Linked DNA regions of Homo sapiens. The protein of the gene in region 1 interacts with the protein of each later gene in a biochemical or structural test. Each region holds a gene or a part of one and is shown in the gene's direction. Other genes may lie near its edges. The genes, in order: PLCG2, CD19 and BLK.

Region 1 (3,747 bases):
AGAGTGATATTCCTCAATTAAAAAACGCTATAACAGGCCGGGTGCAGTGGCTCATGCCTGTAATCCCAGCACTTTGGGAGGCCAAGGTGGGTGGATCACTTGAGGTCAGGAGTTTGAGACCAATCTGGCCAACATAGTGAAACCGCGTCTCTAGTAAAAATACAAAAAATTAGCCAAGCATGATGGCATACACCTATAATCCCAGCTACTCAGGAGGCTGAGGCAGGAGAATCGCTTAAACCTGGGAGGTGGAGGTTGCAGTGAGCCGAGATCGTGCCACTGCACTCCAGCCTGGGCAAGAGAGCAAGACTTTGTCTCAAAAAAAAAAAAAAACAAAAAAAAAACAAAAAAAAAAACAAAAAAAACCAAAAACACACACACACAAAAAAAACGCTATAACAGACCAGTGGCACATGCCTGTGATCCCAGTGCTTTGGGAGGTAGAGGCAGGAGGATTGCTTGAGGTCAGGAGTTCAAGAACAGCCTGGGACACATAGTGAGACCTCATGTCGAAAAAAGAGAAAATTAGCCAAGTGTGGTGTGCCTCTATAGTCCCAGCTCTTCAGGAGGCAGAAGCAGGAGGATCGCTTGAGTCCCGGAGTTCGAGGATGTGGTGAGCTATGATGGCACCACTGCACTCCAGCCTGGGTGACAGAGTGAGACCCTGCCTCTTAGAAAACAGAAGCTATAACTCAAGCAACTTGGAAGTGAAATTCAAGTGCCTGACAGCTGTCTAGGTGCCCCTGAAACTGCCTCTAGTCACAACAAAGATACCTCCATCAAAGAGCATAGGAAGGGTTTGAATCAGATAGCTTCATGCAACACACGAACGGAAAAATAAATTTCTTAAAGAACATATTAGCTTCTTCCCATGAGATCAGGAAAACGGGACATCAATTGTCTGGGGTTCTTTGCTCCTGACTCCCTTTGGGGCTGGCACTATGTTGATCACGTTTTACAGATGGGGAAACTGAGGCTGTCGGTTTTTAAGTGGTCTGCCTAAGGTAGCAGTAAGGGTTGGTCTGACTCCAGCGCAGCCTCAACGAGGGCTTCAAATTAGGGCCATGAATTGGCAATTCCTGGCGGGTAATTGTGAAGAGTATATTTATTTTTAATTTTTATTTATTTATTTTTGAGACGGAGTGTCTCTCGGCCACACCCATCCTAGCTCATTGCTGTCTCGAACTCTCGAGCTCAGACGATCCTCCCGTCTAGGCTTCCCAAAGAGCTGGGATGACAGGCGTGAGCCCGGGCGCCCGGCCGGGAGTGTGTTAAGTATACGGCAAACACCTGGACTGCGGCCGGCTCTCCAGGAATGCCATGATATTGGGGAATTCCCTTTGCACCTGGCCAAGTGGCCTCGGGCAGGTAGCCTCCCCTCGGGTTGCCTCAGTTTCTTCTTTGGCACGCAGAGGCGGGGCTCCAGGCCTGGGCCGCTCCATGGCGGGGAGGGCGCGGGGACGCTGCACTCGGGGTGCGCTCCGAGAGGCGGACCCGGCTGGGCGCGCCTGGGGCGGGGCGAGGCGGGGCGAGGCTGGGCGGTGCGGGGGGCGGCCCCCGAGGATCACGTGGCGCGGCGCCGCGGCCGAAGCAGAAGTAGCGAGCGCCGGCGGCGGAGGGCGTGAGCGGCGCTGAGTGACCCGAGTCGGGACGCGGGCTGCGCGCGCGGGACCCCGGAGCCCAAACCCGGGGCAGGCGGGCAGCTGTGCCCGGGCGGCACGGCCAGGTGAGCTGCCCGGCCGGGAGCGAGGCAGGCAGGGCGCCCAGGGACCTGCGCCCCGCGGGGACCGGCTCCCAGGGCGCTGCGTCCGAGGGGGTCTGCGTCCTGGCTCAGCCGGAGCGGGCAGGGACGGGGCGCACCCTCGGGGACCCCGGCCCGCCGTGCCCGGGGTCCGTTTGGTGACGGCAGGGATCCTGGCCCAGCCGCTGGCCACTTCCTCACCCCGGGCCGGCGCCACCTCTCCGGTCCGTGCGGTGGGGCGGCCCCAGCTTTGAATGGGGACCGGGAGGAAGGTCAGGGGTCGTGTGGGGGCTGGCGTTCAAAACTCCTCTTTTCGAGCGGCTCTGCGTGGGGTGGCGCCGTCTCTCTTGACGGCCCTTGTGCCCAGAGCTCGCGGACGCTCGGAGCCACACTTCCCTGTCTCACTTCGGTGGTTGCGGGTGGCGGGTGGGAGCGATACCGCGGGAGGCGCAGTCCTTCCCGGAGACTTTTGGAGAGCTTGCAGGACACTCGCGATGCCCGCTCCGCAGCTGTCTGCGTAATTATGCGTGTGTCTGTGCGTGTTGTGTTTTGTTGTGTTTTGGAATCCCAAAGAGGGCATTACCCGCACAGCGCAAGAGTTCAGGTTAAAGACGTGCCCCGTTTGGACGGGGAGCTCCTGGATTCCAGCAGGACGGTGGGGCGGGGCTCTCTTGGTACCCTAATCTTGAACTAGGGTGAGAAACTATGGGGGGCGGGGTGGTAAAGGGGTGACATGGCGCGAGGGAAACAGGTGGCCTTGCCCGTCGGAACTTAATTTGAATTTCAGTTCCATCAGTGGGACCCTGGGCAAGTTGAAGAACCTTTTTGAGTCTGTTTCCCCCTCTGGATACTGGAGCCACCCAATTTTCCAGGGCTGTGTCGAGAATTGGGGCTTATTGCTGTTCCACGAGGTTCGCTGAGAATCGGGGCGCATCCATGGAGAGTCCTTGGGCAGTTCCTGACTCTCTGGTTCAAGGGCATTCTCTGGGGCATGGGCCCTCGTCCTTGACTACAGTTCTGCGGGGAAGTTTTACAGAATTTTGAAGTCTATGCCAGCCTCAAGCAGTTTCTCTTGCAAAGGTGTGTGTGCAGTCACGTGTATACCAGCTCAGGGACAATCGTCATTGTGAGCCTCACTGATGTTTAAGTCACCTAATGATGCAGCTGCCTTCCCCCACCAGCGACTGGAGTATGGGCAGTTCCTCTGGAAGTGGAAAAGCACAGACCCCATGAATAGCCCTTTTGCACTCATTGGGTAGAGTCAATGAAAAGCTGCTGGTGAGAAAACTTTTGAAAACATTTCTTGGTCAGGCACGGTGGCTCACACCTGTAATCCCAGCACTTTGGGAGGCCGAGCTGGGCTGATCACTTGAGGTCAAGCGTTCCAGACCAGCCTCACCAACATGGTGAAACCCCATCTCTACTAAAACTACAAAAATTACCTGGGCGTGGTGGTGGCCGCCTGTAATCCCAGCTACCCAGGAGGCTGAGGCAGGAGAATCACTTGAACCCAGGAGGTGGAGGTTGCAGTGAACCCAGATCATGCCACTGCACTCCAGCCTGGGTGACAAGAGAGACTCCATCTCAAGACAAACAAACAAACAAACAAACACACACAAACACTTCTTAATTTAGAAAACAGCAAGAACACAAAGAGAAAAATTTGCCCGTTACATCATCAGTTAATATAAATAAAGTCAAGTTGTATCCTCTACCCTCTCCCAGCCTCCGATAAATAGTAACCACTCTCCTGGATTTACCAGAAGATCACCTTTATAAAAAGGGAATTGTATTATACTCATACAGTTGCAACTATTGTCTGAAGCTATTTTTTTATTGACCTCACAAATCTTTCCAGATCAAATTGCTTATCTATCATCCTCATTCTTTCTGATGGCTACTGAGCGTTCTTCAGTGCATGTGCACCATTATTTATCCAGGAGGCCCCCCACATTGATGAGCAGTTGTTTTCTGTTTTTTTTTCTTTTTTTGTATTTCTATTGCAA
Region 2 (3,747 bases), about 53 Mb from region 1:
GCAAAGAACCAGAGCCCCCAGCAGAGATCCAGGAAAAAGGGCTGCAAGTGCAAGGGCCCTGAGGCAGGGAAGCACTTGGCAAGGAGAGTGGTGGAGGCACGAGGTGGAAAATGTAGGTAGGTCAGCAACACTCGGCCTACTAGGCCTTGGGTTGGAGTTTTTATTTTAGCTAGATGAAAAGCAACTGACATTTTTTGTTTTTTAAAAAATTTCTATAGAGATGGGTTCTCGCTGTGTTGCACAGGCTGGTCTCAAATTCCTGTCCTCAAAGGATCCTCTCGCCTCGGCCTCCTAAAGTATTGGGATTACAGGCATGAGCCTCTGTGCCTGGCTGTAACTGACATGTTTTAAGCAGGGGAATGACATGCTCTAGTGAAAGCCAGTCTGGGCAGCTGGGTAGCTAATGAGGGGATTAGAGAGATTTTGTTGAATGAAAGGCAGATTGAGTCCTGCTACTCGCCCCCTTCATTCCCCTTCATTCATGCCTCATTCTTCCGCCTCCCAGCCGCCTCAACTGGCCAAAGGGAAGTGGAGGCCCTGCCACCTGTAGGGAGGGTCCCCTGGGGCTTGCCCACAGCAAACAGGAAGTCACAGCCTGGTGAGATGGGCCTGGGAATCAGCCACTGAGAAAGTGGGTCTCTTGGGTCCCTGAATTCTTTTTCTGAGTCCCTGCAGCAGTGAAAAAGACACAGAGGCACATAGAGAGTGACAGAGAAAGAGAGAGACAGAGAGGAGAGGCATGGGGCAGAATAAGAACAGATTTAGGAGTTAGAACTCCTGGGTTCTTTTAAAACAATTTTTCTTTTAGAGACAGGGTCTTGTTGTGTTGCCCGGACTGGAGCACAGTGGCTATTCCCAGGCATAATCATGGTGCACTGCAGCCTTGAACTCCTGGGCTCAAGCGATCCTTCTACCTCAGCCTCCCAAGGACCTGGGACCATAGGCGTGTACCACTGTGCCTGGCTTTTGCCTGGTTTTAAACTGAGGCAGTATGACTTGAGCTCTTAGGCATTAATTGAAGCTGTATCTCATTAACTGAGGGCTTATGATGTGCTGGACACTGGGCTAATAGTGCTGAACATATTGTCATTTTTAATCTTCACAAACAATATTTGTATAGGACTGTTTTCTTTTCTTTTTTTTTTTTGAAACAGAGTCTCACTCTGGTGCCCAGGCTGGAGTGCAGTGGTGTGATCTCGGCTCACTGCAACCTCCGCCTCCTGGTTTCCAGTGATTCTCCTGCCTCAGCCTCCTAAGTAGCTGGGATTACAGGTGTGCGCCACCATGCCCGGCTAATTTTTTTTTTTTTTTTTGAGAAGGAGTCTATGTGCCCAGCATTGTTCTAGAGCACTTGCAATTAGTGGTGAACAACACGGTCTCTACTCCAAGGGGCTCACATTCTTGTGCAGAAAACAGAAATGAACAAATAAACACACAAGATCATTTCCCGTGGTAGTGAGAGCTGGGATGAAAATAAAACAGCGTGGCAGGGAGGAGGCAAGTGTTGTGAGTCTGGAGGGTTCCTGGAGAATGGGGCCTGAGGCGTGACCACCGCCTTCCTCTCTGGGGGGACTGCCTGCCGCCCCCGCAGACACCCATGGTTGAGTGCCCTCCAGGCCCCTGCCTGCCCCAGCATCCCCTGCGCGAAGCTGGGTGCCCCGGAGAGTCTGACCACCATGCCACCTCCTCGCCTCCTCTTCTTCCTCCTCTTCCTCACCCCCATGGAAGTCAGGCCCGAGGAACCTCTAGTGGTGAAGGTGGAAGGTATGTCCAAAGGGCAGAAAGGGAAGGGATTGAGGCTGGAAACTTGAGTTGTGGCTGGGTGTCCTTGGCTGAGTAACTTACCCTCTCTGAGCCTCCATTTTCTTATTTGTAAAATTCAGGAAAGGGTTGGAAGGACTCTGCCGGCTCCTCCACTCCCAGCTTTTGGAGTCCTCTGCTCTATAACCTGGTGTGAGGAGTCGGGGGGCTTGGAGGTCCCCCCCACCCATGCCCACACCTCTCTCCCTCTCTCTCCACAGAGGGAGATAACGCTGTGCTGCAGTGCCTCAAGGGGACCTCAGATGGCCCCACTCAGCAGCTGACCTGGTCTCGGGAGTCCCCGCTTAAACCCTTCTTAAAACTCAGCCTGGGGCTGCCAGGCCTGGGAATCCACATGAGGCCCCTGGCCATCTGGCTTTTCATCTTCAACGTCTCTCAACAGATGGGGGGCTTCTACCTGTGCCAGCCGGGGCCCCCCTCTGAGAAGGCCTGGCAGCCTGGCTGGACAGTCAATGTGGAGGGCAGCGGTGAGGGCCGGGCTGGGGCAGGGGCAGGAGGAGAGAAGGGAGGCCACCATGGACAGAAGAGGTCCGCGGCCACAATGGAGCTGGAGAGAGGGGCTGGAGGGATTGAGGGCGAAACTCGGAGCTAGGTGGGCAGACTCCTGGGGCTTCGTGGCTTCAGTATGAGCTGCTTCCTGTCCCTCTACCTCTCACTGTCTTCTCTCTCTCTGCGGGTCTTTGTCTCTATTTATCTCTGTCTTTGAGTCTCTATCTCTCTCCCTCTCCTGGGTGTCTCTGCATTTGGTTCTGGGTCTCTTCCCAGGGGAGCTGTTCCGGTGGAATGTTTCGGACCTAGGTGGCCTGGGCTGTGGCCTGAAGAACAGGTCCTCAGAGGGCCCCAGCTCCCCTTCCGGGAAGCTCATGAGCCCCAAGCTGTATGTGTGGGCCAAAGACCGCCCTGAGATCTGGGAGGGAGAGCCTCCGTGTCTCCCACCGAGGGACAGCCTGAACCAGAGCCTCAGCCAGGGTATGGTGATGACTGGGGAGATGCCGGGAAGCGGGGGTCCAGAGACAGAGGGGAGGGGAAACTGAAGAGGTGAAACCCTGAGGATCAGGCTTTCCTTGTCTTATCTCTCCCTGTCCCAGACCTCACCATGGCCCCTGGCTCCACACTCTGGCTGTCCTGTGGGGTACCCCCTGACTCTGTGTCCAGGGGCCCCCTCTCCTGGACCCATGTGCACCCCAAGGGGCCTAAGTCATTGCTGAGCCTAGAGCTGAAGGACGATCGCCCGGCCAGAGATATGTGGGTAATGGAGACGGGTCTGTTGTTGCCCCGGGCCACAGCTCAAGACGCTGGAAAGTATTATTGTCACCGTGGCAACCTGACCATGTCATTCCACCTGGAGATCACTGCTCGGCCAGGTAGAGTTTCTCTCAACTGGGAGGCATCTGTGTGGGGGTACTGGGAAGAAGTGGAAGCCAGTCAATCTTAGATTCCCCCAACCCGAGGGCTACTCCCAGCCTCACCCCAAACCCCAACTTCCACACAGAACACTGACTCCAAGTCTTTCTTTTTTTTGACAGAGTCTCGCTCTGTTGCCTAGGCTGGAGTGCAGTGGTGCCATCTTGTCTTGGCTCACTGCAACCTCCGCCTCCCAGGTTCAAGTGATTCCCCTGCCTCAGCCTCCTGAGTAGCTGGGATTACAGGTGCCCACCACCACGCCTGGCTAATTTTTTTTTTTTTTTTGAGACGGAGTCTTGCACTGTCACCCAGGCTGGAGTGCAGTGGCACGATCTCAGCTCACTGCAACCTCCACCTTCCAGGTTCAAGTGATTCTCCTGCCTCAGCCTCCCGAGTAGCTGGGATTAAAGCCTGGCTAATTTTTTTTGTATTTTTAGTAGAGATGGGGTTTCATTATGTTGGCCAGGCTGGTCTCAAACTCCTGACCTCGTGATCCACCCGCCTCGGCCTCCCAAAGTGCTG
Region 3 (3,747 bases), on another chromosome or scaffold:
CCCTCCCATTTGTGGAATGTTCCCTGGCGTGCTCCTGCTTGCCTGAATCCCTTCCCCACCTTCCCACCTAGGCAACTTGCATTTGCTCTGACGTCCAGGGCAGGTGCGAATGTCTCCTCCCAGTCACAGTGCCCAAGCCCATTTGTGTGTCCCCAGCAACCACCAGCACACACCCAGGGCTCTGGTTTGCAGGCCTGCCAGGTTCTCTGGACCAAAGCTCCTGAGGACAAGGACATGCCCTACATGTGCCTCCAGGTCCCAGCACCCAGCGCAGTGCCTGGCCCACCAGGGGTATCTGGTAAAGTGGTTCTTGAGTTAAAGACACAAGGGCAAAACCTTAAATGAAAATCAAGGTTAAGACATGAGGATGAAAGCTTGAAAGAGGAAAAGCAAAGATAATTGAATGATCATCCCTAATCGTGGTGCACCCCAGTGCCATCAGCATGCTGGGGTTTTGACAGGACCCTTGGAAGAAAGAGAAGAGGCATCTGAGGCCTCTGGCACATTCCACTTCCTGTAAGACAGTGTGGTATAGATGAAAGCATTGGGGCTTCCTGCCAGCCAGGTCAGTCTGGCTCTGCACCTGCCAGCTGGGAGTGTGAAGTGGGAGCAGTTGCACCCACTCTCAAGCACAGACATGAGAACTGAACAGAACCACGGAATGGGGGTCCAGAGCCCAAGACATAGACGAGGCTCCTCCTTGTCCACTGTGGGGCTTGTGCAACCCCTTCATCAAAGCGCTGGTGCTTTCCACATTGTAATCAAGGAAGTTTTCTCACGTTCCTTCTCATCACAACTAGCTGCTGGCCTTTTTGCACACTTTGGCACCTAGGATGCTGAACCTGGACCAGTGGGAGGCAAACAAGACACACCTGGGATGCAAAATGTAAGGAGGCTCCCATGCTCAGGTCGTTCAAGTGCAGGAAAAGTTTGTGTATGTGTGAAACGCACAATGCCATGTGGTGTCTATAAGGGCATTTGAGGTTCTGTGCTTAATAGATGAAGTGGGTTCTGAGCATTGAGTCTGTGGATTCCTGATGAGTTTCCTGGTGCTCTGAGCTCCGTGAACTTGTAAACAAGCTTTTGTGTAGGTGGGTACTTACAGTTTTTGTCAGATTCCCAAAGGGGTCTGTGAACCCCAAAATATTTGGAATCACACAGTCAAATATCTAGGAAGACTACTTTAATTTTCTCTCTCAGCGTGTTGTGGATATGAGGAAGTGGAAAGGACTTGGACATAGAAGTCAGACAAAGCAGCCACATCTGAGTGGTCTCGTCCTGCAGTGTAGTGGTTAGACGGCTGGCCTTGTCAACCAGAGGGCTCCAGTGCAAGGTTCAGCCCTGGCAATGTGAGCAAGTCACTGTGTGCCTTCCTGAGATGATAATAGTTTGACCCCACTGTATACGAGCAGCCTTACCTGTCTCGGGTAGGTTAATTATATCCTCTCAGTCTTATTTCTTCATTCATTGATAATAGCACATCACAGGATTAACAGAATTAAATTACAAAGCCCTAATTTTTAGGTGAGTTGAAGCTGAGGAGCACACAACTTTTCTTACAGGGTGCACTCAATTCTCAATGTCAGAACCACCAGGGGGTCCTTGTACTTCAAAAAGACACATCTTACATGACAACTTCTTTGATTTACTTTTATGCCCAATATTCATTTTGAAACCTCACAAAGGAGAGCATGGTGTTGTTGTTTCTCAAAAGAGAAAGTAAATTTAGTAAGATTGAGAGCCATGAACCTAGACACAGTCACAGGGCACATAAGATTTCGGTCAATCACAGACTACATATATGATGGTGGTCTCATAAGATGAAGACACTGTATTTTGCCTGTACCTGTTCTATGTTTAGAGACACAAATATTCACCACTGTGTTACTACTGCCTGCAGTATTTAGTACAGTCGCAGGCTGTGTAGGTGTGTAGCCTAGAAGCAACCGGCTATGCCACAGAGCCTAGGGGTGGAGTAGGCTCTACCATCTAAGTTTTGTATACGATGTTCGCAGAACAACAAAATCACCTAATGACACATTTTTCAGAACAGATCCCTGTAGTGAAGCAATACGTAACTATATTTTGGGAACTTCCCCTGTATCCAGATAGTCAGTCCAAGAGCTGTGTGTTTGGATCTCACAGTGCTTGAGATCCTGAGAGAATCTCATTTCCTGAGTCAGATGTGGGCATTCTTTCTTGGCATGGGTACACTGCCGTGGCTTGTGCTGAAGGCTGCATAAGAAACAGAGGTTGGAAACTCACAGTGGAATTTATTGCTGAGATGACGTTAAGCTGTTCGCATTCCACCCAGGACCTCCACAGGAGAAGCCCAGAGAGGATGACTCTCAGACTCCAGATCCAGGAAATCCATGCCTCTCTGGAGCAATGGATGTCTTACAGACACTGTGACTCTTCAAACTGATTATTTTCTTCTTTGTGCTTGGACTCCAGGACACTTAGAACCCAATTTGCATCTAACCACTAGCAGTTTGGTGACAGCATGTCACAGTTTGTATTTCTGTGCACCAGCTTTATACACATTTTTTTTTCTGCCCTAACTTACCCTTTGGTCTAATTTCTTTATCTGTTTTTCTATCCTGTTGTATTGTATGTATTTTTATAAGCGGTCTCAAATCTTTTCTGGAAACACTAGGAAATGAATATATAAACAAATACAAGCAGGACAGCATTTCTGAAAGAGCCTGATATACAGTGAGGGTGCTCACTAAGGATTAGTTCCCTATCTGTGTACAAAACAGAAAAATTCACTGAGGGAGCCAACCTGCAGTCAAATGTCCAGCTGTGAGTCTATTACAGTTATAGAAATAGCTTATTTTTACACATATTCCACCTTAGATTGATTTGGGGGGTGTTTGTTTTTGTTGTTGTTGTTTGAGACAAGGTCTCACTCTGTTGCCCAGGCTGGAGTGCAATGGTTTGATCTCAGCTCACTACATCCTCCGCCTCCCGGGTTCAAGCAACTCTCCCACCTCAGCCTCCCGAGTAGCTAGGACTACAGGTGTGCACCACCACGCCCTGCTAATTTTTGTATTTTTTTGATAGAGACAGGGTTTCATCATGTTGGCCAGGCTGGTCTCAAACTCTGGACCTCAAGTGATCTGCCTGCCTTGGCCTCCCAAAGTGTTGGGATTACAAGCATAAACCACTGCACCTGGCCTGTTTTTTTGTTTTGTTTTATTTTGTTTTTGTTTGTTTGAGATAGGGTCTCGCTCTGCCTCCCAGGCTGGAGTGCAGTGGTGTAATCATGGCTCACTGCAGCCTCCACTTCCCCAGCTCAGGCAATCCTCCCACCTCAGCCTCCCAAGTAGTTGGGACCACAGGTGTGCACCACCACGCCTGGCTAATTTTGGTTTTTGTAGAGATGGGTTTTTACCATGTTGTCTAGGCTGGTCTCAACCTCCTGAGCTCAAGCAATCTGCCTGCCTCAGCCTCCCAAAGTGCTGGGATTACAGGCATGAGTGACCATGCCTGGCTCTACCTTTTATGTTAAAGTTTATATAAATTATTTCATTTTAAGATTCTTTTATTCCTGCCATTTCTGTGGTGCAATTGGATTTTTACATAAAGTTAAATAATACTTTTTATTTTGGCCAGGCGTGGTGGCTCACACCTGTAATCCCAGCACTTTGGGAGGCCAAGGTGGGAGGATTGCTTGAGGTCAGGGGTTCGAGACCAGCCTGGCCAACATGGTGAAACCCCATCTCTACCAAAAATACAAAAATT

The links.
Region 2: the proteins of PLCG2 (region 1) and CD19 form a complex in vitro, tested with the Homo sapiens proteins (one study listed by BioGRID).
Region 3: the proteins of PLCG2 (region 1) and BLK form a complex in vitro, tested with the Homo sapiens proteins (one study listed by BioGRID).

What each region holds. Positions count from the first base shown.
Region 1 is NC_000016.10:81,777,699-81,781,445, forward strand, and holds the start of PLCG2 (1-phosphatidylinositol 4,5-bisphosphate phosphodiesterase gamma-2), read left to right. Parts: upstream 1-1,592; 5' UTR 1,593-1,726; intron 1,727-3,747. UniProt on the Homo sapiens protein: The production of the second messenger molecules diacylglycerol (DAG) and inositol 1,4,5-trisphosphate (IP3) is mediated by activated phosphatidylinositol-specific phospholipase C enzymes. It is a crucial enzyme in transmembrane signaling.
Region 2 is NC_000016.10:28,930,325-28,934,071, forward strand, and holds the start of CD19 (B-lymphocyte antigen CD19 isoform 2 precursor), read left to right. Parts: upstream 1-1,646; 5' UTR 1,647-1,676; coding exon 1,677-1,764; intron 1,765-2,021; coding exon 2,022-2,288; exon of another isoform or gene 2,289-2,586; coding exon 2,587-2,790; intron 2,791-2,909; coding exon 2,910-3,185; intron 3,186-3,747. UniProt on the Homo sapiens protein: Functions as a coreceptor for the B-cell antigen receptor complex (BCR) on B-lymphocytes. Decreases the threshold for activation of downstream signaling pathways and for triggering B-cell responses to antigens.
Region 3 is NC_000008.11:11,497,315-11,501,061, forward strand, and holds part of BLK (tyrosine-protein kinase Blk), read left to right. Parts: intron 1-3,747. UniProt on the Homo sapiens protein: Non-receptor tyrosine kinase involved in B-lymphocyte development, differentiation and signaling. B-cell receptor (BCR) signaling requires a tight regulation of several protein tyrosine kinases and phosphatases, and associated coreceptors.